Linked DNA regions of Homo sapiens: region 2 is linked to region 1. The links come from fine-mapping of genetic effects on gene expression. Tissue or cell type: lung. Region 1 holds a variant in brackets; the other region holds the start of a gene. Each region is shown on its reference strand, or each on the opposite one.

The links. PIP is the estimated chance that this variant, and not a neighbour inherited with it, causes the effect.
Region 2: it holds the start of ZNF671, and the variant in region 1 is the best candidate, but not a certain one, in a credible set for the expression of ZNF671 in lung (TOPMed, PIP 0.57).

What each region holds. Positions count from the first base shown.
Region 1 is chr16:3,270,652-3,286,923 of GRCh38, forward strand. It overlaps ZNF263 (zinc finger protein 263), which reads left to right and starts at 12,840. Exons shown (of 6, transcript NM_005741.5): 1 at 12,840-13,554; 2 at 14,408-14,588; 3 at 15,030-15,103; 4 at 15,372-15,498. The coding sequence starts at 13,168. RefSeq lists enhancers at 11,813-12,318, 12,429-12,618, 13,329-13,832 and a silencer at 12,989-13,148. The variant G/GT (reference allele first, on the strand shown) is at 6,174.
Region 2 is chr19:57,718,577-57,734,848 of GRCh38, forward strand. ZNF671 (zinc finger protein 671) reads right to left here and starts at 9,048. Exons shown (of 4, transcript NM_024833.3): 1 at 8,815-9,048; 2 at 4,638-4,764; 3 at 3,740-3,862; 4 at 1,175-3,121. The coding sequence starts at 8,952. The coding sequence ends at 1,905. RefSeq lists enhancers at 8,747-9,247, 8,765-9,204, 9,345-9,394 and a silencer at 9,201-9,426.

The DNA.
Region 1 (16,272 bases):
TGACCTCGAGTGATCCACCCGCCTCGGCCTCCCAAAATGCTGGGATTACAACCATGAGCCACCGCACCTGGCCCAGATGATTTAAAGAAACACGAAGTGTAATATCTGTAAATTTGTTTAAATTTCGCAGTGAGGAAGATCTTTCTTTTTTTTTATTTTTTATTTTTTTATTGATCATTCTTGGGTGTTTCTCGCAGAGGGGGACTTGGCAGGGCCATAGGACAACAGTGGAGGGAAGGTCAGCAGACAAACAAGTGAACAAAGGTCTCTGGTTTTCCTAGGCAGAGGACCCTGCGGCCTTCTGCAGTGTTTGTGTCCTTGGGTACTTGAGATTAGGGAGTGGTGATGACTCTTAACGAGCATGCTGCCTTCAAGCATCTGTTTAACAAAGCACATCTTGCACTGCCCTTAATCCATTTAACCCTGAGTGGACACAGCACATGTTTCAGAGAGCACAGGGTTGGGGGTAAGGTCACAGATCAACAGTATCCCAAGGCAGAAGAATTTTTCTTAGTACAGAACAAAATGAAAAGTCTCCCATGTCTACTTTTTTCTACACAGACACAGCAACCATCTGATTTCTCAATCTTTTCCCCACCTTTCCCCCTTTTCTATTCCACAAAACCGCCATTGTCATCATGGCCCCTTCTCAATGAGCTGTTGGGTACCCCTCCCAGACGGGGTGGTGGCTGGGCAAAGGGGCTCCTCACTTCCCAGAAGGGGCGGCCGGGCAAAGGCGGCCCCCCACCACCCGGACGGGGCGGTTGGGCGGGCGGAGGCACCCCCCACCTCCCTCCCGGACGGGGCGGCTGGCCGGGCAGGGGCTGACCCCCCACCTCTCTCCCGGACGGGGCGGCTGGCCGGGCAGGGGCTGACCCCCCACCTCCCTCCCGGACGGGGCGGCTGGCCGGGCGGGGGCTGACAGATCTTTCTAACCAAGATAAAAAAACTGAAAAAGTTAAAAAATTCAGGTAAATAGAAAAATTAGAAAACTTCAGTATGACAAAAACAGCCATGAATATGGTTAAAAGGCTGGATGCAGTGGCTCATGCCTGTAATCCCTGCACTTTGGGAGGCCAAGGTGGGAGGATTGCTTGAGCCTAGGGGTTTGAGTCTCCACAATGTAGGCAGACCCCATCTCTACCCTCCCTCACAAAATTAACTGGCCATGGTGGTGTGCGCCTGTGGTCCCAGCTACTCAAGAGGCTAAGTTGGAAAGATCGCTTGAGCCTGGGAGGTCAAGGCTGCAGTGAGCTGTGATTGCACCACTGCACTCCAGTCTGGGTGATGGAGCAAAACCCTGTCTTAAAAAATAAAAATAAAAAAGGTGACAGAGAAAATATTTGTACATACGATAATACCTGGAATGTTAAAGCACTATAATTTTTTTAATGCTCAAAGGCTTAAATAGGCAACTCACGGCCGGGCGTGGTGGCTCACACCTGTAATCCCAGCACTTTGGGAGGCTGAGGCGGGTGGATCACGAGGTCAGGAGATCGAGACCATCCTGGCTAACACAGTGAAACCCTGTCTCTACAGACTACAAAAAATTAGCCAGGCATGGTGGCACGTGCCTGTAGTCTCAGCTACTCGCGAGGCTGAGGCAGAAGAATTGCTTGAACCCAGGAGGCGGAGATTGCAGTGAGCTGAGATCCTGACACGCACTACAGCCTGGGCAATAGACTGAGACTCCATCTCAAAAAAAAAAAAAAAAAAGGCAACTCAGAGAAGAAATACAAAGTACCACGTGAAAAGATGCCCAATCTCCAAGTAATCAGAAACATGACAGGCAACAAGGGGATATTATTTTTTTTTAAATAGCGGCAGAGTCTTGTTATGTTACCCAGGCTGGTTTAGAACTCCTGGGCTCAAGCAGTCCTCCTGCCTTGGCCTTCCAAAAGTGCTGGGATTACAGGCCCTAAGCCACCACACCCGGCTGAGGGGACATAATTTTTCACCCACTATATTATCACAAATTAATATGATTGCCACAGCCAACTTTAATGAGCATGCAGACATAGAAGCACTTTCACACCTCAGGTTACGAGTTAAATTTGTGAAGCTTTTTTTTTTTTTTTTTTTTTTTTGTGATGGAGTCTCACTCTTTTACCCAGGCTGGAATGCAGTGATGCAATCTCGGCTCCCTGCAACCTCCACCTCTGAGGTTCAAGCGATTCTCCCACGTCAGCCTCCTGAGTAGCTGGGATTACAGGCACCCGCCACCATGCCCGGCTAATTTTTGTATTTTTAGTAGAGACGGGGTTTCACCGCGTTGGCCAGGCTGGTGTCAAACCCCTGACTTTAGGTGATCCGCCCGCCTCGGCCTCCCAAAGTGCTAGGATTACAGGTGTCAGCCACTGCTCCTGGCCTGTGAAGCTGTTTTGGAAGGTGATTTGCTGCAAGTTTTCAAAATTAAAAATGCACAAGCCTAGGCCAGGCACGGTGGCTCATGCCTGTAATCACAGTACTTTGGGAGGCCGAGGTGAGCAGATCACTTCAGCCCAGGAGTTTCAGACCAGCCTGACCAACAAAGTGAGACCTCGTTGCTACAAGAAATAAAAAATTGGGTGGCACATGCCTGTGGTCCCAGCTACTCTGAAGGGTGAAGTGGGAGGACTGCTTGAGCCCAGGAGGTCAAGGATGCAGTGAGCCAAGATTATGCCACTGCACTCCAGCCTGGGTGACAGAGGGAGAACATATCTCAAAAAAAAAAAAAAAATGCACAAGGCTTTTGCTTCAGTGATTCCATTTCTAAGACTATATCCAATGTACCCAAATATGCACGTCTGAGATGTTCATTGGAGTATTGGTTGTTAAAGGAAACAGCTGGAGACAATCTAAATGGGGAGACAGTCAGTACAGCTGTGGTATATCCATAGTATGCATGCTCTACAGTTGTTAAGAGTGGCAATGGCCTATTCATCTGGACCTAGATAGATGTCAAAGGCACACTGCTAATATTTAAAAAGAAGATCTGGAAAATATGTATAGCATGGTGTATACATATAATTAGCCCATATAGGTACATGAAGTTCCTCAGGAGACTGGGAGGATGCACAGCCAGGTAAACCTGTAGAGCATGGAGACATTAGGTGGGAGGTGATGGAAAAGTCCCTCAGTTTTTTTTTTTTTTGAGACAGTCTCGCTCTGTTGCCCAGGCTGGAGTGCAGTGGCATGATCTCAGCTCACTGCAACCTTCACTTCCTAGGTTCAAGCGATTCTCCTACCTCAACCTACCAAGTAGCTGGGATTACAGGCGCCCGCCACCACGCTCAGCTAATTTTGGTAGTTTTAGTAGAGATGGGGTTTCACCATGTTGGCCAGGCTGGTCTTGAACTCCTGACCTCAAGTGATCCTCCCCGCCTTGGCCTCCCGAAGTGCTGGGATTACAGGTGTGAACCACTGTGCCCAGACCTTCATTTTGTTTGTATACATCTGTATTCATTGAATCTTCTACAAGGTTTATTTATTCATGTATGCCTATTGTTCCGGTTATCTATTGTTGCATGAAAAACACCCCAAAACTTAATAGTGTAAAACAGCAGCCCCTTTATTATGCTCACAACTTGGTGGTCAGATTTCAAGCAAGACCCAGAGGCACAACTCATCTCGTTCCACAGTGGCTGGAGCTTCAGCTGAGGTGGCTCAAATGGCTGGAGAACACTTCCCTGCAGCAGAACCTACAACCATCTTCCTCCCCTTTCTGGAAAAGGTTTGTTTCTGAGGCTGGAGTCAGAGTCTTCAAACCAACAGCCAGAGATAACATTGCTAATTATGCCCCTTTCCTTGGTCTTTATTTGAAATGAAACGGTTCTGTTACCGGTAGAGGGTCTTGATGCAAATTGTCCAGGTTCTTGGCATTTTGAACAAAGAACTGGACAAAACGCACAGCAAAGCAAGGTAAGAATGAAGCAGCAAAAGCAGAGATTTATTGAAAGTACATGCCACAGTGTGGGAGCCGGCCAAGCAGCAGCTTAAACACCCCCTAGAGGTTTCCCATTGGCCACTTGGTGTTCACCCCATGTAAATGAACCAACCTCAGTCAGTCTGATTGGTTGCAACCAATCAGAGGCTGAAGTGAAGTTACAAAGTTACACTCCTGTGCAAACGTCTGATTGCAAAAAGCAGCCAGTCAGAGGTACCTTCAATTTCCCATCTGCCCCTCAGAAAAGGTGGGCATTGGCAAAGGGAGTAGCCTCTGGTCCTTTTGTTACTTATGCGTGGAAAGTTGGGGTTTTTCTTTCGATTTAGTTCTAGGAAGTCAAGGTGAACTGGCCTTCAGTTCCCTGCCTCCAGACCCTATTCTGCCTCAGTTCAAATACACAAAACCTAACAAATACCTATATGACCACCTTCCACAACTAATCAATGGCAGTGTCTATTAGTTTGACTTTGTTTCTATTTTACAAGAAGCAAAAGCACCTCTGGACTCTCCACTAGAGAGCTATGTGCAGCCACTCCAGCATGGTGCTCTCAGGGTAACCAGACTTCTTACACTAGCTCCAAGTGCAAGTTCTCCTAGCAAACAAGATAGAGGTTGCAAGGCCTTTTATGACCTCACCCTGGAGGTCACACCACATCTGTATTTCATTGTATTTCATTGGTAGCAGTCACAAGCTGCCCAGATACAAGGCAGAGGGACAGATGCCCCACTTCTTGATGGGATGAGTGGCAAAAAAAAATCTGTGACCATGTTTAAAACCCAGAAGATTTGGCTGTTAGAGATTTGTGAAGTTTTTAAAAGTTAAGAATTATTAAAACAAAAATAAAACCCAGGAGACAAGGTAGTGGAAGTGTGTCCCTCCCATTCACTGACCAAGGTGAGGGGACTCTAGTCCTTTGCTGCTGACCTTCAGCCTCCCTTCCTCTTAAAAAGAGGTCCTAGTTGGGGAGCGATGGCTGAAGAGTTACCATAAAATACCAAGTAGGAGCGAGGTGCGGTGGCTCACGTCTTTAATCCCAGCAGTTTGGGAGGACAAGGTGGGAGGATCGCATGAGCCCAGGAGTTCAAGACAAACCTGGGCAACATAGCAAGGCTCTGTCTCTACAAAAAAGGAAAAGAGTACAAAGTAGGGCCATTTAGTATGGTTTCATCTTTATTAAAAGTCTTAAGTTTTAGATTTTTGAAGTTATCACCAATAAAATATCCAGTTGTGGTCTTGTGTTGAGTGAAAATGTTATTTAAATGCAGATATTTAAAATATACTACAATTTTTGTGCTATTTTAATTTTCTAGGAGCCTTAAAAAATGTGTGGCTACTGAAACTGTGCCCCAAAGAGTTAAAGAAATCAGTAACTAACAGAAATTCTTGAGTCTGCAGGATGGCAGATAAGAAACAACTCGCTGGCCAGGTGCAGTGGCTCACACCTGTAATCCCAGCACTTTGAGGGATTGACCCACTGAAGTGGGTGGATTACATGAGGTCAGGAGTTCGAGGCCTGGCAGGTTGGTGGGCACCTGTAGTCCCAGCTGCTTGGGAGGCTGAGGCAGGAAAATCACTTGAACCCGGGAATCGGAAGTTGCAGTGAGCCGAGATCAGGCTATTGCACTCCAGCCTGGGCGTTGCAGCGAAACTCCTACTCAAAAAAAAAAAAAAAAAAAAAAAAAAAAAACAACTTGCTGAAATGCTGAAGAAATGCTGAAACTCCCTCCCTATAAGATAAAAGAAGAACAAGCAGAAATCTGTTGGAACCAATAACGCTGACTGGAGTCTGCACAGAATGAGCTTGCTGACATCACAGCCTGAATTTTCAACACAGGTTTCATGCTGTCCCTGAATTTGCATGAGACCCATTAAGTAGCTTGAAGAGGTAACTGCGAAAGCCCAAGGACTTTCCACATCTCCCCTTTCCTTCCACTAATAATCACCTACTAATCTCAGAATCCACCGCCTGAACCTTTTCTAATAAAAATAACTGCCTTAAAGCCAACACGGGGAGACAGCCTTGAGCTTGATATTCCTGTCTCCTTGTGAGTCGACTTGCAATACAAAGCTTTTCTTTTTTCAGAACCACAGTGTCATAGTATTAGCTTCTAGGGTATCAGGCTGGAATGCACTGGTGCGATTATGGCTCACTGTAGCCTCAATCTCCTGGACTCATGCAGTCCTCCCACCTCAGCCTCCCAAGCAGCTAGGACCACAGGCACTTGCCACCACGCCTGGCTAATTTTT[G/GT]TTTTTTTTGTAGAAATGGGATCTCACTATGTTGTCCAGGCTGGTCCCGTGCTCTTGGGCTCAAGTGATCCTTCTGCCTATGCCTCCCGAAGTGCTAGGAAAAGCCTCCCAAACTGGAAAATATGGGATGGCTTCCCAGTTGTTAAAACACCCTGATTTGGGAGCTGATTGCTTATAAACACTAAGAAAAAGCTAAGAGCTGAGTTCGCCTTCCCATTCTGTTCTCAGGTTTCTCTCCTTATAGAGAGGTTCTGATCATCTACAAGCTTTGCTAAATCTGGGGTGTTTCTCTACTGATTTCCTAAATGTTTGTAGTCTTTTTTGTAAAATTGATGATTCAATTTTATTCTCCTCTGAAGTAACAATAGATGCAGAGTCTGACATTTCTTCAGCTTTGAAGAATCTGCATTTTCTCTCCTGATCTCAAAACCTGTAAGAAAAAGAAATTGCAGATATCACCCTGTCCAAGGAGAAAGAGGGGGGAAAATAAGAGTTGTATTAAAGTAGTAGAGAGAAAACAGAAACTGCTAAATAGAATCCCAAAGCCTTTTATTCCAAGTAAGGCTGAATTTTTCTTTTCTTTCTTCCCGTTTCTTTCCAGTGAACACTCACCTCTCCTGGAGTCAAGTCATTGTTTCTTTCCTTTGGAATCCTGCTATTCCTGCACCCATGGCTCTTCTCTAGGCTCCAGTGGGAAGTACAGGTCAGGGTTTGGGACTAGATATACTGGTCATAAGAAATACAGGGAACATGATAGTCTGGGTCACACTGATTTTTCCTGAGTTCAAGCCGATTTCCAGGACAGATGGCCTCTCCATATTTATTTCCTTCTCAATTAGGATTATTTCACCTGGAGCCTCTAACAGGCAGCTGGCTTTTTTTGAGACAGGGTCTTGCAGTGTCTCCCAGGCTGGACTGCAGTGGCACAATCTCAACTCACTGCAGTCTTGACCTCCCAGGCTCAAGGGATCCTCCCACCTTAGCCTCTGGAGTAGCTGGGACCACAGGCATGTGCTACCATGCCCTGATAATTAAAAAAAAAAACTCTGTAGAGAGAAGGGCTCTCTCTGTTGCCCAGGCTGGTCTTGAACTCCTGGCTCAAGCAATCCTCTTGCCTCGGCCTCCCAAAGTGCTAGGATTACAGGTGTGAGCCACTGTGCCCAGCATAACAGGCAGTTTTTCAACATTAGAACAAAATCTAGGAGTACGAAAGGCATACTGGAAAAATAATAAACAAACATTAGAACAAAAACAAAATAGGGGGAAGATCCTTTTGTGCTCAATTCAAAGCTATTCTCCTCCAATCTCTGGGAAGAGGAGTGAATTAATTCTGCTAGTCAATGCACTGATTTAGTTTTACCTCATTTTTTGAATATTTTGATAATAAAATTATCTAAGAACCAAAATATCAAGTTAATCTTCCTAAAATTCTGACTATATTAAAACTGAGAACTATTCTCTTATTGAATCCAAGAGAAGAGAGAGGTAAATGTGGTAGTTAAACTATGTCCTGGATTAATTTCAGTTAAGAGACTTTCAAATAAGAATTAGTATCTGAACTGGTTTGGTTGGCAACCAGCAAAAACAATCTTTACATGTTTGTTTTAGCTGAAGCCTAGAAGTAGATTGTCTTGATATTAACCAAAACAAATATCTAAGAGTGTTTCCATCAATCCAGACAATTAGTAAAATGGTCTCCAGTGTGGTCTCCCCTGTGTCCTGCCATGCCTCCCCTCACTGACAAAAGTTTGGGTTGCACCCTCTTTCCAAGTTCTTTCCTCTCCCTCCTCATCTTGACAGTTTACTGGTCTGAAAAAAAAAATAGGTTGGTAAATAGTGATCTAATATGCAAATAGAGGAATATGTCTAAATATTAACATTATCAAACAATATTAGTAAGACAGTTTGGTTAATGTTAGTCCAAAGGAAAATTTAAACTCCAGAACATTTAATCAAAATATAAGTGGCGTAAAATGTCTCATTTTATCTTTTCATGAGGAAAGGTAATATATTCCATATTAATAAAAATAAAATGCATTTCAAATGAAATGCCATTTAAATTTGCTATTTTGTTTATGATTGGATTTCAAAGCTAGGAGTAGGATCAAAGAGCATGTGGTACAGGTAAAAGAAAACCCTAAATCCAGCGCTTTGGGAGGCCGAGGCGGGTGGATCACCTGAGGTCAGGAGTTCAAGACCAGCCTGGCCGACATGGCAAAACTCCATCTCTACTAAAAATACAAAAATTAGCCAGGCATGGTGGCGTGTGCCTGTAATCCCAGCTACCCGGGAGGCTGAGGCAGGAGAATCGCTGGAACTTGGGCAGAGGCTGCAGTGAGCCTTGACTGCGCCACTGTACTCCAGCCTGGGCGACAGAGCAAGGCTCTGTCTCAGAAAAAAAGAAAACCCTAAGTCATAGATCAAAGGAATGCTGTAGTCAAGTAAACGAGGGGAGAGACCAAAGCTGGGGGGAGTGGCAAGTAGCAAAGGCTTAGAGTGGCAGAAGCTCCCGGAGGCTGAATGTACCCTAAGATGAAAGACAGGAAAAGCATCGATTTAAAATGACGGCTATGTTGCCCAGGCTGGTCTCAAAACTCCTGGGCTGAAGCAATCCTCCTGCCTCAGCATCCCTAATAGGTGGGGCTACAGTTGCATGTCACCACAACCAGTTAATTTTTAAAATTTTTTTTCTGTAGAGACGAGGTCTTGCCATGTTGCCCAGGCTGGTCTCAAAATCCTGGCCTCAAGTGATTCTTCCACCTCAGCCTCCCAAAGTGCTGGGATTACAGGCGTGAGCCACAGTACGTGGCCTAGTCTTGAAAGTCTTAACACTGTAGATTTCACCAAATGTCACTTTGAAAACCAGGCACAGATAACTGGCCCCTTGAGTACAAAGGAATCTGTAAGAGCTAGTTAGGGAATGAAAGAAGTCCCAGAGACAGAGTCTAGTACCCATGAGACCTAAAACCAGGAGTGGTAAGGGTTCTTTGTCGAAGATTCAAATTTATTTTTCTCTGCAACAGTCACGAAGTCACCTGCAGCTGAGGATGAGAAAACACAGTTAAGTCCTCACTTAACATCACTAATACGGTAAGTCCTCACTTAACATCATTGATAGGGTCTTGGAAACTGGGACTTAAAGGGAAAAGACATATAATGAAACTAATTTATTTTTGTCATCAACCTTATAACAAAATGTGCTTTCACTTAAGATAACAGTTTCCAACCTATCTAGGACATTGAGGACTTACAGTGTTAAGAAAGTAGAATCTGTACTGGTTTCAAAGGCGCTTACTTCTCTTCACTACTTACTTTTCACCAAAGCCCTAAAGTAGCAGTTCTTAGTCTTTTTGGCGGTTTTTAGAACTTGATGAAAGCTATGAACCCACTTACTAGAACATACAGATACACACACACACACACACACACACACACACACACACACACACACACATCCAATTTTGCATACAGTATCAAAAGGTTTACAAAAATCTCCAAACCCATCCATGGATCCTCTGGAACTGCATTGGCCAGTATGGTAATACTTGGCAAGACTAACTCCATTTTAAGTGCCCATTGGCTACCATCACAGAAAGTTCTATTGGATAGCACTGCTCCAGACATGGAGGCAGCTTAAGAACCCTGGCCCTGGCCGGGTGCAGTGGCTCACGCCTGTAATCCCAGCACTTTGGGAGGCCAAGGTGGGCGGATCACCTGAGGTCAGGAGTTCAAGAGCAGCCTGGCCAACATGGCAAAACTCTGTCTCTACTAAAAATACAAAAATTAGCCGGGTGTGGTGCGTGGTGCCTATAATCCCAGCTACTCGGGAGGCTGAGGCATGAGAATCGCTTGAACCTGGGAGGCGGAGGTTGCAGTGAGCTGAGATCCCACCACTGCACTCCAGCCGGGGCGATAGAGCGAGACTCCATCTCGAAAAAACAACAAAAAACCCCTACAAATCTGCTGGCCTGTTAACACCACTCCTAGTCTAATACCAGCTAGTCTGTTTTCCACATACTGGCAGATCACAAAGAATTGGAGGAGGACTACTACCACCACTGATTTTGAATAACCCTGAAAGTTCATCTTTTTTTAAAAAATTAAATTATTATTGCTATTTTTTGAGATGCAGTCTTGCTGTCGCCCAGGCTGGAGTGCAGTGGCACAATCTCAGTTCACTGCAACCTCTGCCTCCCAGGTTCAAGTGATTCTCCTGCCTTAGCCTCCCCAGTAGCTGGAAATACGGGCGTGCGCCACCATGCCCGGCTAATTTTTTTGTATTTTTAGTAGAGACGAGGTTTCACCGTGTTAACCAGGAGATGATCTCGATCTCCTGACCTCGTGATCCGCCTATCTTGGCTTCCCAAAGTGCTGGGATTACAGGCGTGAGCCAGCGCACCTAGCCTAAATTCATCTACTTTTAAGTACCTATAAATAGCATAAAATCAAAAGGACCTTAGATAGAAAATGATTAATCCCTCATTCTCCCTATCTCAAGGTATGTGTAGTTCTGCAAACATTCCCATGCCACAGATTCTGCAATAATAATCTGAGTGGCTTTTCTTTTTTGAGATAAGGCACACATTCAGGAACTTGCTGTGCATGCGTAACAGCTACTATTTATCGGATTCATACTATGTGCCAGGTACTGTTCTAAGCATCCTGTGTAGCTCCGCTCATTTCATCCTAACCCAGTGATATGAGGTGAGGTGCGTATAGTAGTCCCTCAAAACAAATGAGGAAACTGAAGTTTGGGGTTTAGTGAGATTACATAAGTTGCCTGAGATTACATAGTAAATGTCAGAGAAAAGTGGTTTTGAGGCTAGAGTCTTCTGCAATTGGTTATGAGTCTAGAATCTATGTCTCTTGAAATAGGAATGTCCAATGATCGTGCCATTGCACTTCAGCCTGGGCGACAGAGCAAGACCCTATCTCAAAAACAAAAGAACAGGAATGCCTAAAACCACCAGAATGGTCCTAGGGAGCAAACAAGGCTTTCCAAACTGGACCTTGAGTGCTATGGGGTCGCTGGCTCTGCATCTGCCACGACAGCCTGTGGATCTGTCATCTTCCCTGGAATAAAATTTTTAAAAAAGGCCAGGCGTGGTGGCTCACGCCTGTAATCCCAGCACAGTGGGAGGCTAAGGCGGGCAGATCACTCGAGGTGAGGAATTTGAGACCAGCCTGGCCAACATGGTGAAACCCCGTCTCTACTAAAAATACAAAAATTAGCCGGGCGTGGTGGTGGGCGCTTGTAATCCCGGCTACTCAGGAGGCTGAGGCAGGAGAATCGCTTGAACCCGGGAGGGGGAGGTTTCAGTGAGCCGAGACTGCGCCATTGCACTCCAGCCTGGGCAACAAGAGCGAAACTCCGTCTCGGAAAAAAAAAAAAAAGAAAAAAACTAAAATATCAGTACTCTTTTCACTTAGTCATCACAAACCCCTTTAATCCCATATTACCCTCTACTATCATGGTAGCCTCACCTTTGACGACAGACTAGCTGTGTGACCCAAGTAAATGACTTCAGTGCCACCACCTGTAGGAAGGGGCTGCTAATAGCATCTGCTTCATACTAACGTGTTTTCAGGATCGATCTGCATATAAACGCTCAATACACGGTAACTGATTGTCACATTCTATCCCAGGACGCTTCCATTTGCGGATCTCATGGCCCGGAGGACCTGGGCCGCCTCACAACTGGGCAGCCCCGCTCACCGACACAAAGCCCACAACCGCGCCCAATAGGGAATCGGCCCTGCGGCCCTCCTGCCACTCGCCCCCAACTATCACAGTCCACGGCGGAGCTGGAGGCAGATCCCGCCCTTGCAGGGCTGGGTAAGAGACTGAAACTTGGAGAATGAACTGCAGGCGCTGCACATCTCGGGCAGATTTAAAATTCGGTCTAAAATCGGAAGCAGGTGCCGCGAACCCAGACCCGAGCGCTCCTCTGGGACGTCCAGCCGCAGAAGCGAGCCCAAAGCCCAGCAGGGTTCTCCGCGGGACTCGGGGTTTCAGAACCGCCGGGCTCTTGGGCGCTCGCCCAGGGCGCACGCGCAGTCGCGAGGCCGCGCCGCGGACTGCATCTCCCAGCAGGCCCCGCGCAGCAGGCCACGCGGCGCCACTGACTGGGCGGGCGGCTAGCTCCCTGGCCTCCCCGACATGCCGAGGAGCCCCTGGCTTCCGGAGCCGACGAGGCCGCAGGGGCCAATGGGACCATCTTCAGCCAGCCCAGAGTAGCCGAAGCGGGTGGGGCCTGGCTTGGGAAAGGATTCATCCGGGGAAGCTGATTAACAATTCAGATTTCCGGGTCTCACCCCGACACTGACGCACTGGAGAGCGCGTGGCCCTGGGATCTGCGTTTTCCCAAGCGCTCCGGAGTAATTCTAACCCAGGTTGCCCGCCAGTCACAACGACCTCAGGCTTGTTTTCTTCGCTTGGATCCAGCTGCCCTGCCCCCAGTCACTCCCAGAATTTCAGGGCGCGCCCCGTGGCCCCGCCTCTCGTCTCCAATTGGTCCCTCGCTCATCCAGTCCCCGTAGGCCAATCTTCCCTTCTCATTGGTAGGCGGTGAGTGTGTGGAGAAACCTGACCTAATGGGCGCTGGAGTTCGCAAAACGTGACCCGGAAATTGGTCACGAGCAGGCGCCGTGGGCTTGTGGACGCCTAACTTGCGCGCTGAGATTTCCGGCGTGGGAGCAGAGGTCTGAGTCTTGCGTGGGTCCTCTATATAGGGTGAGAAGCGTGGCGCTCGGTTCCTGCCTCGGGGAAGTCCTGGCGCAGATGGGCCACGGGGCCGGCGTGGCGGCGCCTGGGACCGACTGAGGCCTAGGCGCCGGAGCCGGCCGCGCCTGGGCTGGAGCGGGGCTCCTCGGCCTGGACTGGGAGCCCCCGGCCCCGGGCTCCTGCTGGCGCCGTCCAACCTTACATGGGTTCAGGGCGCCTTCGTAGGCGGGCACGGCTGGTTTCGGGCTAAGGCGCTCTGGAGACCTGACGATGGCGTCGGGCCCGGGCTCCCAGGAACGGGAAGGGCTCCTGATAGTGAAGCTGGAGGAGGACTGCGCCTGGAGCCAGGAGCTGCCCCCACCTGACCCAGGACCGAGCCCCGAGGCCTCCCACTTGCGCTTCAGACGGTTCCGCTTCCAAGAGGCAGCTGGTCCCCGGGAAGCCCTCAGCCGGCTCCAAGAGCTTTGCCATGGGTGGCTTCGGCCTGAGATGCGCACGAAGGAGCAGATCTTGGAGCTGCTGGTGTTAGAGCAGTTCCTGACCATCCTGCCCCAGGAGATCCAGAGCAGGGTGCAGGAGCTGCATCCGGAGAGCGGCGAAGAAGCGGTGACCCTTGTGGAGGATATGCAGAGAGAGCTTGGGAGACTGAGACAACAGGTGAGAGAGAGAGAGAGCTGTTTTATCTGTGGTTTGTTTAGCCCTGAGCACTGGGACATTGCGCCCCCGGTCGAATTCAAGTAAATTGCCCTGAGTAGACCTTACGTGGGGAAGAGGACTTGTGATTTAACCTGGAACACTCATCCTCCAGATTTTCCCCCAAATGAACGAAAGCAGTGAAGAGTGCCCTGTTTCCACGCGGAGGCGGTGTCCCTGCAACAGTTAGTGTTAGCCATGGAGTTAGATCGCCAGCGTTCAAATCCTCAATCTGCTAGTACTAGCTTTGTTACTTTGGCAAGTTACTTGATCTCTTTCGGCCTGTTTTCCTATTCGTAAAATGAGGATATTAACATACTTTCTAGGGCTTAGAGGGAGAGCAGCATGTAAAGTTGTGAACACTACTAGCTTATGAGTGCTTAGTACTTGTTACCTGTTGTTATGTTAGGGTCCACGGTCTGGTCTTCTCTGCAAAGCTGGGCCTCCGTTAATTGTGAACTTTGAAAGATAATTTGGCACCGAGGCCCTGAGGTCATTGGTCCCCAGGGCTACCCCAATTTAGCCTATCCTATAGTGAGGAATAGAAGCACCTAGAAAAGGTGGGGAGAGCAAAAGGGAGTGAGGTGTATCTTAAGAGCTGTGTGGGGAAGGTGTGCTCTGGGAGTGGGCCCTTTCCCTAACCCCTCCCCCTGCACATGGGATCAAAAAAGCCTTTAGTGTAAACCATTTTTCTGTTACCTGGGCCCAAAGGGATCGCCTGAGGTTCTCTGTTGAAGGTTTGCTCTCAGTATCCTATACTAATTTCCCTTCCTCTTGGGCCCTGTTGTGATGATGAGTGATGTGGGTTGGTTCCCAGGTCACAAACCATGGGCGGGGAACAGAAGTGCTTTTGGAGGAGCCTTTGCCTCTGGAAACAGCACGAGAGTCACCGAGCTTCAAGCTGGAGCCAATGGAGACTGAGCGAAGCCCTGGCCCCAGGCTGCAGGAGCTGCTAGGCCCCAGCCCCCAAAGGGACCCCCAGGCTGTAAAGGAGAGGGGTGAGGCACAGTTATCTGGGCAGGTGGGAGGGAGGAGGGGCTTGGGGGTTGCCCCCGACACTAGCTGGATGTAGCAATGATGCGAAGGAGAAGGAATTTCTGAAGATCAGGTTCTCACCTGTGGAATGAAAGACCTGCAGTTGGTGGTGTGGGTTCTCCTGGGGCTGGGGGAAGGGAAGGGAGTCTCAGTAGAGCCCTTTTTTATGCAGAACAGAGGCGATTTAGAACCACTTGAATGACGCAGGGTTTGGAGTGCTACTCTTGGTACTCCTTCCCTCTCACCCTGTCATTTTGGATATCAGCTGATTAGGCCTCTGTGCAGTTTAGCGTCATTCCCAAAAGCAGAGGCTGGGTGTTGGGGAATGGATACTGTGTTTTAATAATCCTTGGGTTGCCAAGAGTTAGGAATGCCATTCTCATTATAATTTCTGTCACCTTCAGCATTATCTGCTCCCTGGCTTTCTCTTTTTCCTCCTGAAGGGAACATGGAAGACAAGGAGATGACTGGGCCCCAGGTGATGTGGAAGTTTCCATTGTCTCCCCCCAGCACCCTTCCTCCCCTGAGTGTTGGGGGTGGGGGTTCTCCATGTGGAAGGTCCTTTGTCCCTTACCACAGCGTCTCCCCCACTGCTTTGTCTATTTCACACCTCACTTGGAGGCCTGATACCCTTCTTCCCCCCTGACATGTGCTTGGCATCCCTGGATTTTGCCCCTTTAACCCATGACTCTGCTTGAATTGTTCTTGGTGCATCAGGGGCTAAAGGAGATCTTGTGCTGTTTCAGTTGCCTGAGAGCTTAGAGGACGTGGCAATGTACATCTCCCAGGAGGAGTGGGGGCATCAGGATCCTAGTAAGAGGGCCCTCTCCAGGGACACGGTGCAGGAGAGTTATGAGAATGTGGACTCACTGGGTAAGGACTTCTTTTCCAGGGATGATGACTGCGCCATTTCTGACCAGGGTCCTGCCCGTTATTCATTCACCTCCTGGACACAGACTCTGAGTTTTGCCAAGAAGCCTCCACAGGAGACTTCCCTTTGTCTAAAGTCCCCTGTACGAGAGTCATGTATCTGCCAAGTGGTACAGTTGGCACAGGCAGCCCGGGACTGGAGTCCCAGCTGCCAGAGCCTAAGGCGAGTCTGAGCCATGTGCACTTCCTAGGGCAGAGCAAACCCAATGCGGTGACAACCTGCCAGCATCACACACATGCAGTATTCCAGGATGCTGGGGGGCTCTAAATGGTTGATTCCTTGCAATTTTCAGATGCTTATTCTTATGAGCTCGCCAGTGTTTCCTGTGTTCCGTTAGTGTTTCTAGGCTCGTCCCCAAAGACAAAAATTTCAGGGGTAGTAGGATCAACATTCCAGCCTATCATCTCTCACAGCCCATAAAAATTCAGAAAGTGGGGAGGGTCTTGTGGAAATTTGGAAACAATGTATAGCTCCAAAGTAGGCCATATCATAAATTAAGATTTACCTATGTCTTGTACTGTACTCAGAGTTTTAAAATTATGCCTACGGAATATGACAGACTGACATATAGTTGGATTTAGGTGGAGGATATGCTTGTATTTATTGTACAATTCCCTCAACTTTTCTGTATGTATGAGAATTCTTTTAATAAAAAGTTGGGGAAGTCTTAACATAAAACAAGACTGTGTGTACATTATGATTATACCTATGTTGAA
Region 2 (16,272 bases), not on the chromosome of region 1:
CATAGTATGGGAACATCTGAGCATGTACCTTTAGAAGTGGCACATCCCAGGCCAGGTGCGTGGCTCACGCCTGTAATCCCAGGACTCGGGAGGCCGAGGCAGGCGGATCACCTGAGGTCGGGAGTTTGAGACCAGCCTGACCAACATGGAGAAACCCTGTCTCTACTAAAAATACAAAATTAGGGCTGGGCGCAGTGGCTCACGCCCGTAATCCCAGCACTTTGGGAGGCCAAGGCGGGCGGATCACGAGGTCAGGAGATCGAGACCATCCTGGCTAACATGGTGAAACTCCGTCTCTACTAAAAAATACAAAAGAATTAGCCGGGTGTGGTGGCGGGCACCTTTAGTCCCAGCTACTCGGGAGGTGGAGGCAGGAGAATGGCAAGAACCTGGGAGGTGGAGCTTGCAGTGAGCCAAGATTGCACCACTGCACTCCTGCCTGGGCAACAGAGCCAGACTCCGTCTCAAAAAAAAAAAAAAAAATACAAAATTAGCCGGGCATAGGTGATGCATGCCTATAATCCCAGCTACTCAGGAGGCTGAGGCAGGACAGTCACTTGAACCCAGTAGGTGGAGGTTGCAGTGAGCCAAGATCACGCCATTGCACTCCAGCCTAGGCAACAAGAATGAAACTCCATCTCAAAAAAAAGAAGTGGCACATCCCTTGTAGTGTGCCGCAATCTCCTCAACTCCCTATTAGTCATACCCAGTGTTTCTATACCAATTATAATTACCACCTGGCTCCTAGAGGTCCTCCAGACAAGGACACCTGCCTATTAAATTCTGAACACAGACTCCTTGACAAGAAGCAGGGGCCAGCTTCCCAATAAGTGCTTGGAAATATGGAACACTGGATGGGAACCAGTGACCAAACTCATGCTCCCAGGTGCTCTAGAAGTTGTTACAACTGATCTCTCTTCATGGTTACCTCCAAACCTACAGTAAAACTGGCATCCAGGTCACATGATTTGTCTCCCAAAGCCCTGCAGTCTGTCTTAGAAGGGCTTGAACAGCAACACAAATTAGGTCAAAGCTGTAATCAGAGCTGTTCTCTGCCATTTGCTCTAAGGGACAGAAAACAAGGACTCCCACAAAAGCTGTTAACTTGTTCATGCTGAGAACACACCTGTTTCCTCAATAGACTCCAAACAATAAACAGAACCCACAACATTAATGGTGGCTTAAAGAACAGGCCTTTATTATCATGAGCAATGTGAAGCAGGCAGTTCCAGAGCTGGGTGACTTGGATATTGGATATATCCATAACGAGCATCATATGAAATCAATCAACACAGGTAAGTCTCTGCAGGCTATTTGCAGAATCCTTCTGTGTCCTCTTGAACAAAGCTGATTATTTCCATGCCATTTACATCAAAAGAGAGGAAATTAAGACCCCTAGTGGGCTGTGAGACCACTCACAACACCTTTTAGGGACTGGGGAGAGAAGAGAGGTCTGCCCGTCACAAGCATGCTGGGGTAAATGGTAAACGCAGTATGATTCTGCCAGATGGTAGGAGCAGATGGCTCCTGCCCCAGCAAAGGCCAATAGCCATTTAAAAAGTGCAACACAGCTGCTGAAAGCATCTCACATACTTGACACTCACAGGGAATCTCCCCAGTGGGAATGTCCATATCTATGAAGTTTCACTTCTTACTGATGGTTCCCTCCCAATGGCTGCTCCCAGAGTTCCACTCTAGGGTGAGCTGTTGGGCTGAACAGAGACAGCACATTGCTTAGACTGCTAAGGCCTGTGTCCGGTGTGAAATTCCCAATGGCGGGTAAGGTTCAGCCTCCAGGGGAAGGCTTTCCTGCATCTGCTGCACTCATTAACTACTGCTAGTTCCCCACCATATAGTAAGTCAGGGGCATTGGCCTAAGACTTTCCCCCACATTTGCTACACTCTTAAAGCTTTTCTCCAGCATGAACCCTCTGGTGCAGAACAAGTGTCTGTTTCCGGATGAATTCTCTCCCGCACTCACTACACACATAAGGCCTTTCCCCAGTGTGGACTTTCCAGTGCCTGATGAGGTTGGGTCTTTGAGTGAAGGCTTTCCCGCACTTGCTGCACTCATAAGGCTTTTCTCCAGAGTGAACTTTCTGGTGCTGAATGAGTTTGGAGATGCAGCTGAAAGCTTTACCACATCTGCTACACTCATAATCACTGCTGTGAATTCTCCAGTGTACATTAAGGTGGGAGCTTTGGCTAAAGGCCTTCCCACATTCACTGCACTCATAAGGCCTTTCTCCAGTGTGAGTTCGTTGGTGCAGAACAAGTGTGTGTTTCCGACTGAACTCTTTCCCACATTCGCTGCATACATAAGGCCTGGCTCCTGTGTGAACTTCCTGGTGTCGAATGAGATTAGACTTACTGCTAAAAAATTTCCCACATTTGCCACACTGATAGAGTCTTTCACCCGTGTGAACTCGCCTGTGCTCAATCAGGCCGGAGATTTGTCTAAAGAATTTCCCACATTCGCTGCACTCGTATGGCCTTTCTCCAGTGTGAACTGTCTGGTGTTTAAAGAGGTCATAGCTTTGGCTGAAGAATTTCCCACATTCGTTACACTCATAAGGCCTTTCTCCAGTGTGGATTCTCTGATGCCGAGCAAGTGTGTCTTTGCGGGTGAAGGCTTTCCCACATTCACCACACCTGTGATACCTCTGTCCCATGAGAAAGCCACTCACAAGCTTAGTGCTCTTGTGGGGCTTCATGCTGCTGAGAGAGGCCTGATGCTGAAGAAGGCCAGATGTGGCTGAAAAGTCTCTCCTACCTTTCCCACATGTGAGGGTCTTCTCTGGCACATGGACTCTGCAGCTTTTCACAGAGTCTCTGCCCTCCTTCCTTGGGAAAAGTTTCCCTCCATTGGGCTGGTTCTGGTGCTGGTCAAAGTCTGTACTGAACCAGAATTGCTTTCCACATGCCCCACACAAGTATGGTTTCTGCCTGGCTTTTCCCCCATGGTATTTAGCCAGGTGTAAGGTATCTTTCAATATTGGGCCACATATGTCACATGGGTGAGACTCCAGCTCTGCCATGAGAGTCCTGACCTCTGACACTCCTGCTACAAAAATGCTCTGCTCAGAAGATACCTCTTCATCCTCCACTCCATGCCAACAACCTGAAGAACACACAAATGCTGATTAAATGCATATTTACGGGTGGGAAGGGGCAACCTCATTGTATATGTGCATTTGACACATGCAGGAATAAGTTCATGAAACTGTTTTCAGAATGAGAGGCATGGTCAGAGTGAGGAAGGAATGGCTTTGAGGTAGTGAGCCTCTGGAGGTCATACCATGGGGGAGTGCCAATGAAGGGCCAGGATATAAGAATGGAACCAAACAAATGGCTTCCAGTAGGGCCTTGACTGTTAGTGACTCGTGAGTGCTATGAAAAATGTATCCAGTCCCAGGAAAATCCAACTACAAGTGAGCAGCTGGTGTTCAAAGACTATTTAAGAATATATGCACATCTTGTGAACATTAATTGCAGGTCAATACTGCCAAAAAATGTAGACAGAGAAGTGGTGAAACATGGGTGTAAGGTGAAGGCCAGAGGTGAGGGTGGCAAGGGGCTAACAAACTAGAAATGATATATCTTCGTGTCAAGAACAGGAAAGGACAGATAGAAACGCTGTGTGGCCACTGGCCCTGGAAACAAACACTGATGTGAACAGTTAATGTTGCCAGTTTTGAACCCAGCTTTGACATCGTGCCCTTCCCCGATGTCCACTCACCAGGTCTAAGTCCCCTCTGGGCCTCTCTTTCTGTGGCTGAAGTCATATCCACCTGGTCATACACCCAGGGCTCTTCTCCTCGCTCTAGTTTCATGACTGCACGTGATCTGGAAAATGCAATTCCTAAGGGAAAGTCAGAACAGGTGAGCAGCCAGCACTGGCCCATGGCAAACCACCCTATGATGGACTTCAGGTAAGAAAAATAACCTGGGAGGAGTTGTGCAGGAATAACCCAAAGGTCCCTATAAGTGACTATGTAAGTGCCTATAACTCCTGACAAGGTCAGGCCCTAGAAGATGTCACCTGAGCTGGGCGCAGTGGCTCACACCTGTAATCTAACACTTTCAGAAGTCAAGTCAGGGTATTACTTGAGCTCAGGAGTTCAAGACCAGCCTGGGCAACATGGCAAAACCACATCTCTACAGAAAAATTAGCTGGGCGTGGTGGTGTGTGTCTGTAGTCCCAACTATTCAGGAGGCTGAGATGAGAGGATGGCTTGAGCCTGGGAGGTAGAGGTTGCAATGAGCTGAGATCATGCCACTGCACTCCAGCTTGGGCAACAGAGCCAGACCCTGACTCAAAAAAAAAAAGAAAAGAAAATGTCACCTGGAGAAAGGGACAGAACCTTGGGCACAGAGGCATCATAATTTTGGACAGAGTCACCAGTACAGAAAGCGAACAGACCTAGTGAGATCCACTGGGCAAACCACAAGTCTCATGACCCCAAACCCTTGGCTGCACGGCTTCAGGACTACTCAGCAAGTAGGGAGGACACTCCATACAGCTTAGCCCTGGCATCTTGAGCACCTACTCCAGGAAACTGGTGAAGGAAGCGGTGCTCATGATCCCACCATAGGAAGAACAGAGTGGTAAAGGCAGAAAAGCATGAGGACCTTACCCAGTGAGGCTAAAAGTGCAAAGTTCTCCAGCATCACATCATGGTACAAAAGTCTCTGAGCATCATCAAGAAGCTCCCATTCTTCCCGAGAGAAGTATACAAACACATCCTCAAAGACCACACAGCCCTGCAACAAAAGGGACAGGAAGGACCATAAAAAGTCTCTTGACCAATGATCCCCAGTCTACCTACCCACAACATCCTGCTAACTAACCTCCCAGGTTCCCAAGTCAGAGATACCAGGCACTAGTACCACTGATCCTCACTCTCTCCTGATCACCCCAGCAATCACTGTGTCAGCCCACCACAACAACAGACAGGCTGACAGATAAATGCCATTTACACTCTGAGCCAGCCAACTCCCCTGGGGTACCCAAGATCACAAATCCCAGGTATGAACCTAGGCTCATTTTTCTCAGTTAAGCCCCAAGTCACAGGACCGTCAGCTCACACTCCCTCCTCTCATACACATCACTCTGGACTATGTCTCCCTCACATCTCCAGCTTCCCCCCCACCCTACTGGCCCACCCCATCTCCCTGGACTCCCCAAATGTCACTCTACACATAGCATTAAGAGTGCTTGCCGAAGGCAGATCACGAGGTCAAGAGAGCGAGACTATCCTGGCCAACATGGTGAAACCCCGTCTCTACTAAAAAAAAAAAAAAAAAAAATACAAAAATTAGCTGGGCATGGTGGTGTGTGCCTGTAGTCCCAGCTACTTGGGAGGCTGAGGAAGGAGAACTGCTTGAACCTGGGAGGCAGAGGTTGCAGTGAGCTGAGATCATGCTACTACACTCCAGTCTGGCGACAGAGTGAGACTCCATCTCAAAAAAAAAAAAAAAAAGTGCTTGCCAACAATCAGTATCCCATCTTGCTCCAAACCATCAATGGCCCCATTGCCAAGGAAAGCCCTATTGTTGCTCTGAAAGCCTCCCAATCTGGCCCTGTTCCTTTTTTCAATCACAGGCACCTCAAACCACATGCAGATCTCAGGTATCCTCAACCCTCTTCCATTTCTTTGTTGCACATTGTACCACTGTTTGATATGGATTGGATGTGTATCCCCTACAAATCTCATGTTGAAATGCAACCCCTAGTGCTGGAGGCCCAGGGAAGCCAAAAGATTGGACACCCCTGATTTAAAGTGAGAGATGTGTAACTACTCCTTTAACTTGAACTCTTAGAGGCCACTGTAGGGTTATTAACTGACCTGATTTCAATATTGCTGTGTGTCAGGGAATAGGAACGCTTAAAGAGAGGGAGAAGGATGGGGATCAGCTGGTCAGTGAGGCAGTCAGAAGACACATAACAATTTTTTTTTTTTTTTTTAGACAGATTCTTGCACTGTTGCCCAGGCTGGAGTGCAGTGGCACGATCTTGGCTCACTGCAAGCTCCATCTCCCAGGTTCACACCATTCTCCTGCCTCAGCCTCCCGAGTAGCCGGGACTACAGGCGCCCACCACCATGCCCGGCTAATTTTTTGTATTTTCAGTAGAGACAAGGTTTCACCATGTTAGCCAGGATGGTCTTGATCTCCTGACCTCGTGATCCACCCGCCTCGGCCTCCCAAAGTGCTGGGATTACAGGTGTGAGCCACTGCGCCTGGCCGACTTTAGGCATTTGACACAGATCTCTAACTAACTTAATGCAGGCAGCAGGAGATAAATACCCATGCTCAGCTGCATCATGAAAACGGAAGAAACTGGAACACATTCAACACCCTCAACACATTCCAGCTACATCAAAAGAGTCTGGTTCCTACCTTCTGGCCTTAGGATAATGACAGAATGTAGTACATCCTAAGTTCCAGAGAGTTACCAAAAACAGAGACAGCATTCTGGACAAACACAAAGATTAGAGAAGCACCTTAAATCTTTGGCCAGATGGATTCGTGAGATCCTTCTACTACACTAGGCAAGACTGGGAGAAGTAGTGAACTTTTTTTTTTTTTTGAAATGGGGTCTCAGCCAAGCATGATGACTCACACCTGTAATCCCAGCACTTTGGGAGGCCGAGGCGGGTGGATCTCCTGAGGGCAGGAGTTCGAGACCAGCCTGGCCAACATCGTGAAACCCCGTCTCTACCAAAAATACAAACAAATTAGCTGGGCGTGGTGGCGGGTGCCTGTAATTCCAGCTACTCAGGAGGCAGACAAGAGAATTGCTTGAACCCAGAAGGCAGAGGTTGCGGTGAGCCGAGATTGTGCCACTGCACTCCAGCCTAGGAAACGTGGTGAAACCCCGTCTCTACTAAAAATGGAAAAATTAGCGGGGTGTGGTGGTGGGCACCTGTAATCCCAGCTACTCGGGAGGCTGAGGTAGGAGAACTGCTTGAACCCAGGAGACAGGTTGCAGTGAGCCGAGATCGCGCCACTGCACTCCAGCCTGGGTGACAAGAGCAAGACTCCATCTCAAAAAAACAAAACAAAACAAAACCTGGCCAAGGCATGGTGGCTCACTCTTGTAATCCCAGCACTTTGGGAGGCCGAAGGGAGTGGATCAACTGAGGTCACGAGTTTGAGACCAGCCTGGCCAACATGGTGAAACTCTATCTAATAAAATACAAAAATTAGCTGGGCATGGTGATGCATGCCTGTAATCCCAGCTACTGGGAAAACTGAGGCAGGAGAATCACTTGAATCTGGGAGGCAGAAGCTGCAGTGAGCCAAGATCGCACCATTGCACTCCAGCCTGGGTGACAGAGCGAGACTCGTCTCCAAAAAAAAAATAAATAAATAAAATAAAACCAAAGCCAAGTGCAGTGGCTCACAACTGTAATCCAAACACTTTGGAAGGCTGGGGCCGGTGGATCAGTTGAGGTCGGGAGTTCAAGACCACCTGGGCCAACACGGTGAACGTCCCCCCCACTCCCCCGCCCCCACCCCACCCCTCCCACCTCCCCACCCCACCCCACCCCTCCCACCTCCCCACCCCCGTCTCTACTATAAATACTAAAATTAGCCAGGGGTGGTTGTGGGCACCTGTAATCTCAACTACTTGGGAGGCTGAGGCGGGAGAATCTCTTGAACCCGGGAGGTAGAGGTTGCAATAAGCCACTGCATCCCACCCTGGGCGACAGAGTGAGACTTCGTCTCAAAAAAAATAAAAAAAATAAATAAACTAAAACTAAAAGAAAACACACAAAATGAGGGTGAGATAATCAGATAGTAGCAATAGCACACCACCCATCGTTGCCATCCCAGGCCAAACTCCTCATACCCTACAGCTCTCTCCTCCTGCAAACACTGAAAAGAACCCTTTCAAATGGCAGGACCCTTCTCTTCTGGGGGGAGTCTCAAGAATGCCCACTCCCTCTTCCCTGCCCTGCAGTCCCAGCCTTCTCATCTCTTACCCCAGAGATATGAAATAACATACTTAAGACTGCCCCACTTAAATCTGACCTCCTGGCCTTGACCTACTCCAGACCGCTCCCTTCACCCCAAAGATATTCTAAGCCCAGCCCCTTCCCCACAACTTCAGACCTTCCTCTCTAGTTGCCTAAGTGAGGAAGCCTCCACTCTGAGACATCTCAAAGTCACCATTCCAAAATCCAAACGTTCATGGAAAAACAACAAAAACACCTTGCTCTTTCATGCCTTACTTTCAGTCATAGCTGCATATGATGGAGCAGAAAATCCTGTTGGTTTCAAATTTAAAACCTACCCAGAATATGATCACTTCTACCCACTCACCTGCCATTACTCTTGGTACATCCACCACCAAAGCATTCCTGGAATCCACTGCAGTAGCCTCCTTACCGGTCTCCTCGTATCCATCCTCGCAGTCCCCACCCCAAACTAATGTTCTCCCCTGAGCAAATTTCGAGACACTTAAAATCCCAGCTAAGATCACGTCCTTCTATTCAAAACCCTCAGTTAATCTCAACGCCCTCAGAATGAAGCGACAACTTCTCAGCCTGCCATTCCAGTCACAGTTCCTCAAACTCTGCTCTGTGTTGATGAGAACCCTGTCTCCCAAATGTTTGGGGGTCAGCAGCACCCCCGAGCCTTTACCTGCGCCGTCCCCTCCGCCCGTAACTCTCCCACACCCACCCACACCGAGATAGGACCCCGCCCCAAGAGTGCGTCGCTGTCCTGGGACACAGGGGCTGCAGGCACTTTACGATTCGGAGTCGGAGAAAGGGTGACTGAGGGCCCGGAGGACGCAGCACCCACCCGCGCGGAGTCCGTTAGCTCCGCCATAGGACCGTGGGCGCGGACAGCTGCCGGGAGCGGCAGGCGTCTCGATCGGGGACGCAGGCACTTCCGTCCCTGCAGAGCATCAGACGCGTCTCGGGACACTGGGGACAACATCTCCTCCGCGCTTTCCCAACACCTCCACCTGCGGCCCACACAAGCGTTACAGAACCCCGGCCAGGGACAGCCTGACAGAAACAAAATGTCCGCTACAAGGAGGAGCCGGAAGTCCCGCCCACGCACCCCCCGCAGGCACTGAAACACCCCTCTCCTGGGCCCTCATTGGGTATGCAACGTATAGGTTTGTGGGTAGAGTGTGGTTCCCACTGAGCTATCCTTCAAGGCAGGGGATTCTCGGCCTGGGCTCTTGGGAAAACTCGAAGTAGGAGGGCCAAGTTGTTTGGGAAAAGTAACCCGAGTTTCAAAGGGCTGACAGGACTTCCGTCCTCTTTTTTTTTTTTTTTTTTTTTTTTGAGACAGAGTCTCGCTCTGTCTCCCAGGCTGCAGTGCAGTGGCGCGATCTCGGCTGACTGCAACCTCCGCCTCCCGGGTTCAAGCGATTCTCCTGCCTCAGCCTCCCAAGTAATTGGGACTACAGGGGCCCGCCACCACGCCAGGCTAATTTTAGTACTTTTAGCAGAGTACGGGATTTCACCATGTTGGCCAGGCTGGTCTCGAACTCCTGACTTTGTGATTTGCCTGCTTCGGCCTCCCAAAGTGCTGGGATTACAGGAGTGAGCCATGGTGCCCGGCTGACTTCTGTCCTCTTAAAAGGCCTGGACCTAGATTCCCTGGAGTGTAGTATGCACCGATCGCAGAAATGTTGAGACATTTCAGATGTTCCCCAAAGCTGCAAAACTAAATAGATACACCACACCACAATGTCTCTTTGCGTACACTCACAGCTAGAAGCTAATAACTATTACCTTGTTGCTTTTTAAATATGTGTGCACTCAAGCTTTACAGTAACTTTTGTGAGCTTCAGTTTGGTCAGAGACGGAAGAGAAAATATTCCAAACAAGGCCTTGGAGTGGAAGAAGGAAGAGGGATGATGTGGAGTCTCCCTGAAACCAGTGGACAGATTTCTTCAGAAAACTCTTCCTGCCTGGGTAATCAGTGATGTCTCCATCACAGCAAAACACAGTGCAATTACCATTTAACCTGTCATTGTCATTGTAAGTATGGTGTCTGTGTTAGGAGGTGAGATTATCCCCGGGGGAAAAATCCTGACAGCTATTAATAATGATTCCGTAGTTATTTGAAGATAATGAAAGAAATTGCTCTAAGGAAATATCTGTGATAGATGGACAAAGTTAAGATCTCAGTAAAGTTTGAGCCTGAATACTAAAGTATAAGTGAAAGAATGAAGTTAAGCATATGGTTGTGTTGTGATCTTGACCACACTTTGTCAACAAAATGTGACTCTTTTTTCCTGAAAATGCTGAGCAATTGTAAAGAAGATATCAGAATGGTAAAAATCAACAGTGAAGTTGTGCTGTCTTGATAATTCACTGTTAAAATACACATCCAAGGAACACATACGAGCTCTCAGTAGGTGTTTTTCAAATGTGTTAGTAGCATGAAAGACATCACTAATAAAATTTCCAAGATTCCTATACATACAGGACATGTCCTGCATATAATGATTTTTGTCCTGCATCACCTTTTGACTTTGTCACAATACCCTAAATAAATATTCTAAAGAAGGCAACAGTCTTAAAGAAAAGAATTTTCAACCCGGAATTTCATATCCAGCCAAACTAAGCTTCATAAGTGAAGGAGAAATAAAATACTTTACAGACAAGCAAATGCTGAGAGATTTTGTCACCACCAGGCCTGCCCTAAAAGAGCTCCTGAAGGAAGCACTAAACATGGAAAGGAACAACTGGTACCAGCCACTGCAAAAACATGCCAAATTGTAAAGACCATCAAGGCTAGGAAGAAACTGCATCAACTAATGAGCAAAATAACCAGCTAACATCATAATGACAGGATCAAATTCACACATAACAATACTAACCTTAAATGTAAATGGGCTCAATGCTCCAATTAAAAGGCACAGACTGGCAAATTGGATAAACAGTCAAGACCCATCTGTGTGCTGTATTCAGGAAACCCATCTCACATGCAGAGACACACATAGGCTCAAAATAAAGGGATGGAGGAAGATCTACCAAGCAAATGGAAAACAAAAAAAGGCAGGGGTTGCAATACTACTCTCGGATAAAACAGACTTTAAACCAACAAAGATCAAAAGAGACAAAGAAGGCCATTACATAATGGTAAAGGGATCAATTCAACAAGAAGAACTAACTATCCTAAATATATATGCACCCAATACGGGAGCACCCAGATTCATAAAGCGAGTCCTTAGTGACCTACAAAGAGACTTAAACTCCCACACAATAATAATGGGAGACTTTAACACCCCACTGTCAACATTAGACGGATCAACAAGACAGAAAGTTAACAAGGATATCGAGGAATTGAACTCAGCTCTGCACCAAGCGGACCTAATAGACATCTACAGAACTCTCCACCCCAAATCAACAGAATATACATTTTTTTTCAGCACCACACTACACCTATTCCAAAATTGACCACATAGTTGGAAGTAAAGCACTCCTCCGCAAATGTAAAAGAACAGAAATTATAACAAACTGTCTCTCAGACCACAGTGCAATCAAACTAGAACTCAGGATTAAGAAACTCATTCAAAACCACTTAACTACATGGAAACTGAACAACCTGCTCCTGAATGACTACTAGGTACATAACGAAATGAAGGCAGAAATAAAGATGTTCTTTGAAACCAACGATAACAAAGACACAACATACCACAATCCTGGGACACGTCCAAAGCAGTGTGTAGAGGGAAATTTATAGCACTAAATGCCCACCAGAGAAAGCAGGAAAGATCTAAAATTGACACCCTAACATCCAATTAAAAGAACTAGAGAAGCAAGAGCAAACACATTCAAAAGCTAGCAGAAGGCAAGAAATAACTAAGATCAGAGCAGAACTGAAGGAAATAGAGACACAAAAAACCCTTCAAAAAATCAATGAATCCAGGAGCTGGTTTTTTGAAAAGATCAACAAAATTGATAGACCACTAGCACGACTAATAAAGAAGAAAAGAGAGAAGAATCAAATAGATGCAATAAAAAAAGACAAAGGGGATAACAGCACCCATCCCACAGAAATACAAACTACCATCAGAGAATACTATAAACACCTCTACGCAAATAAACTAGAAAATCTAGAAGAAATGGACAAATTCCTCGACACATACACTCTCCCAAGACTAAACCAGGAAGAAGTTGAATCTCTGAATAGACCAGGCTCTGAAATTGAGGCAATAATTAATAGCTTACCAACCAAAAAAAGTCCAGGACCAGATGGATTCACAGCCGAATTCTACCAGAGGTACAAGGAGGAGCTGGTGCCATTCCTTCTGAAACTATTCCAATCAATAGAAAAAGAGGGAATCCTCCCTAACTCATTTTATGAGGCCAGCATCATCCTGATACCAAAGCCTGGCAGAGATGCAACAAAAAAAGAGAATTTTAGACCAATATCCTTGATTAACATTGATGCAAAAATCCTCAATAAAATACTGGCAAACCGAATCCAGCAACACATCAAAAAGCTTATCCACCATGATCAAGTGGGCTTCATCCCAGGGGTGCAAGGGTGGTTCAACATACGAAAATCAATAAACGTAATCCAGCATATAAACAGAACCAAAGACAAAAACCACAGGATTATCTCAATGGATGCAGAAAAGGCCTTTGACAGAATTCAACAACCCTTCATGCTAAAAACTCTCAATAAATTAGATATTGATGGTAACGTATCTCAAAATAATAAGAGCTATCTATGACAAACCCACAGCCAATATCATACTGAATGGACAAAAACTGGAAGCACTCCCTTTGAAAACTGGCACAAGACAGGGATGCCCTCTCTCACCACTCCTATTCAACATAGTGTTGGAAGTTCTGGCCAGGGCAATCAGGCAGGAGAAGGAAATAAAGGGCATTCAATCAGGAAAAGAGGAAGTCAAATTGTCCCTGTTTGCAGATGACATGATTGCATATCTAGAAAACCCCATCGTCTCAGCCCAAAATCTCCTTAAGCTGATAAGCAACTTCAACAAAGTCTCAGGATACAAAATCAATGTGCAAAAATCACAAGCATTCTTATGCACCAATAACAGACAAACAGAAAGCCAAATCATGAGTGAACTCCCATTCACAATTGCTTCAAAGAGAATAAAATACCTAGGAATCCAACTTACAAGGGATGTGAAGGACCTCTTCAAGGAGAGCTACAAACCACTGCTCAATGAAATAAAAGAGGATACAAACAAATGGAAGAACATTCCATGCTCATGGGTAGGAAGAATCAATATCGTGAAAATGGCCATACTGCCCAAGGTAATTTATAGATTCAATGCCATCCCCATCAAGCTACCAATGACTTTCTTCACAGAATTGGAAAAAACTACCTTAAAGTTCATATGGAACCAAAAAAGAGCCCGCATTGCCAAGTCAATCCTAAGCCAAAAGAACAAAGCTGGAGGCATCATGCTACCTGACTTCAAACTATACTACAAGGCTGCAGTAACCAAAACAGCATGGTAGTGGTACCAAAACAGAGATATAGACCAATGGAACAGAACAGAGCCCTCAGAAATAATGCCGCATATCTACAACTATCTGATCTTTGACAAACCTGAAAAAACAAACAATGGGGAAAGGATTCCCTATTTAATAAATGGTGCTGGGAAAACTGGCTAGCCATATGTAGAAAGCTGAAACTGGATCCCTTCCTTACATCTTATACAAAAATTAATTCAAGATGGATTAAAGACTTAAATGTTAGACCTAAAACCATAAAAACCCTAGAAGAAAACCTAGGTAATACCATTCAGGACATAGGCATGGGCAAGGACTTCATGTCTAAAACACCAAAAGCAATGGCAACAAAAGCCAAAATTGACAAATGGGATCTAATTAAGCTAAAGCACTTCTGCACAGCAAAAGAAACCACCATCAGAGTGAACAGGCAACCTACAGAATGGGAGAAAATTTTTACAACCTACTTATCTGACAAAGGGCTAATATCCAGAATCTACAATGAACTCAAACAAATTTATAAGAAAAAAAACAACCCCATCAAAAAGTGGGCAAAGGATATGAGCAGACACTTCTCAAAAGAAGATATTTATGCAGTCGAAAAACACATGAAAAAATGCTCATCATCACTGGCCATCAGAGAAATGCAAAACAAAACCACAATGAGATACCATCTGACACCAGTTAGAATGGCGATCATTAAAAAATCAGGAAACAACAGGTGCTGGAGAGGATGTGGAGAAATAGGAACACTTTTACATTGTTGGTGGGACTGTAAACTAGTTCAACCATTGTGGAAGTTGGTGTGGCGATTCCTCAGGGATCTAGAACTAGAAATACCATTTGACCCAGCCATCCCATTACTGGGTATATACCCAAAGGATTATAAATCATGCTGCTATAAAGACACATGCACGTGTATGTTTATTGTGGCACTATTCACAATAGCAAAAACTTGGAACCAACCCAAATGTCCAACAATGATAGACTGGATTAAGAAAATGTGGCACATATACACCATGGAATACTATGCAGCCATAAAAAATGATGAGTTCATGTCCTTTGTAGGGACATGGATGAAGCTGGAAACCATCATTCTCAGCAAACTATCACAAGGACAAAAAACCAAACACTGCATGTTCTCACTCATAGGTGGGAATTGAACAATGAGAACACATGGACACAGGAAGGGGAACATCACACACTGGGGCTTGTTGTGGGGTGGGGGGATGGGGGAGGGATAGCATTAGGTGATATAACTAATGCTAAATGATGAGTTACTGGGTGCAGCACACCAACATGGCACATGTATACATATGTAACAAACCTGCACGTTGTGCCCATGTACCCTAAAACTTAAAGTATAATAATAATTTTAAAAAAGTCTATTCAAAGGGATAATATCGAGAATTTCCCAAAGATATTAGGAAGGATTATCTTTCCAAGAGAAAGATATCAATATTCAAGTACAAGAAGGCCGTAGAATACCAAGCAGATTTAACCCAAAGAAGACTACCTCAAGACATTTAGTAATCAAATTACCAAAGGTCAAGGGTAAAGAAAGGATCCTAAAAGCAGCAAAAGAACAGAAACAACACACAAAGGAGCTCCAATATGCCTGGTAGAAGACTTCCCAGTATAAACCTTATAGGCCAGGAGAGAGTGGCATGATGGATTTAAAGTGCTGAAGGAAAAAACTTTTATCCTAGAATAGTGTATTTGCTGAAAGTATCCTTCAAACATGAAAGAGAAATAAAAACTCTTCTGGATGAACAAAAGCTGAAAGATTTTTGTCAACACCAGACTTGTCTTACAAGAAATGTTAAAGGGAGTTCTGCAATCTAAAAGGATGTTAATGAGCAACAAGAAATCATCTGAAGGCACGAAACTCACTGGTAATAGTAACTACACAGAAAAAAAAAACAATATAGTAGCAATGTAACTGTGATGTGTAAACTCATATCTTGAGTAGAAAGACTAAAATATGAACCTATCAAAAACAATTCCAACAAGTTTTCAAGACATAGACAGTACAATAAGATATACATAGAAACAAAAAATTTAAAAGCTGGGTGACATAGTTAAAGTGTAATGTTTTTATTAGTTTTTCTCTTGTTTGTTATTTGTTTATGGGATCAGTGTTGTCATCAGTTTAAAATAATGGGTTATAAGATATAGTTTACCATGGAAGCTTCATGGTAAACTAAATTCAAAAACCTACAACAGATACCAAAAAATTTTTTAAAAAGAAATTAAAATATACAACCAGAGAAAATCACCTTCACAATAAGGAAGACAGGAAGGAAGGAAAGAAGGAAGAGAAGACCACCAAACAACATGGCAGCAGTAAATCCTTACTTATTAATAAAACATTGAATATAAATGGACTAAAGTCTCCAATCAAAACACACAGAGTTGCTGAATGAATAAAAATAAAGACCCAATGCTCTATTGCATACAAGAAACACCCTTCACCTATAAAGACACACATAGATTAAAATAAAAGGATGGAAAAAGATATTTCATGCCACTGGAAACGACGAAATAGCAGGAATAACTACATGTATATCAGAAAAATAGATTTCAAGAGAAAAACTGTGAAAAGAGACAAAGTCATTATATATAATGCTAAAGGGATCAATTCAGCAAGAGGACATAATCTTTGTAAATATATATACACTCAACACTGGAGCACCCAGATATAAAAGTAAATATTATTAGAGCTAAAGAGACAGATAGAGTCTGACACAGTGATAGCTGAAGATGACAACACCCCACTTTCAGCATTGAACAGGCC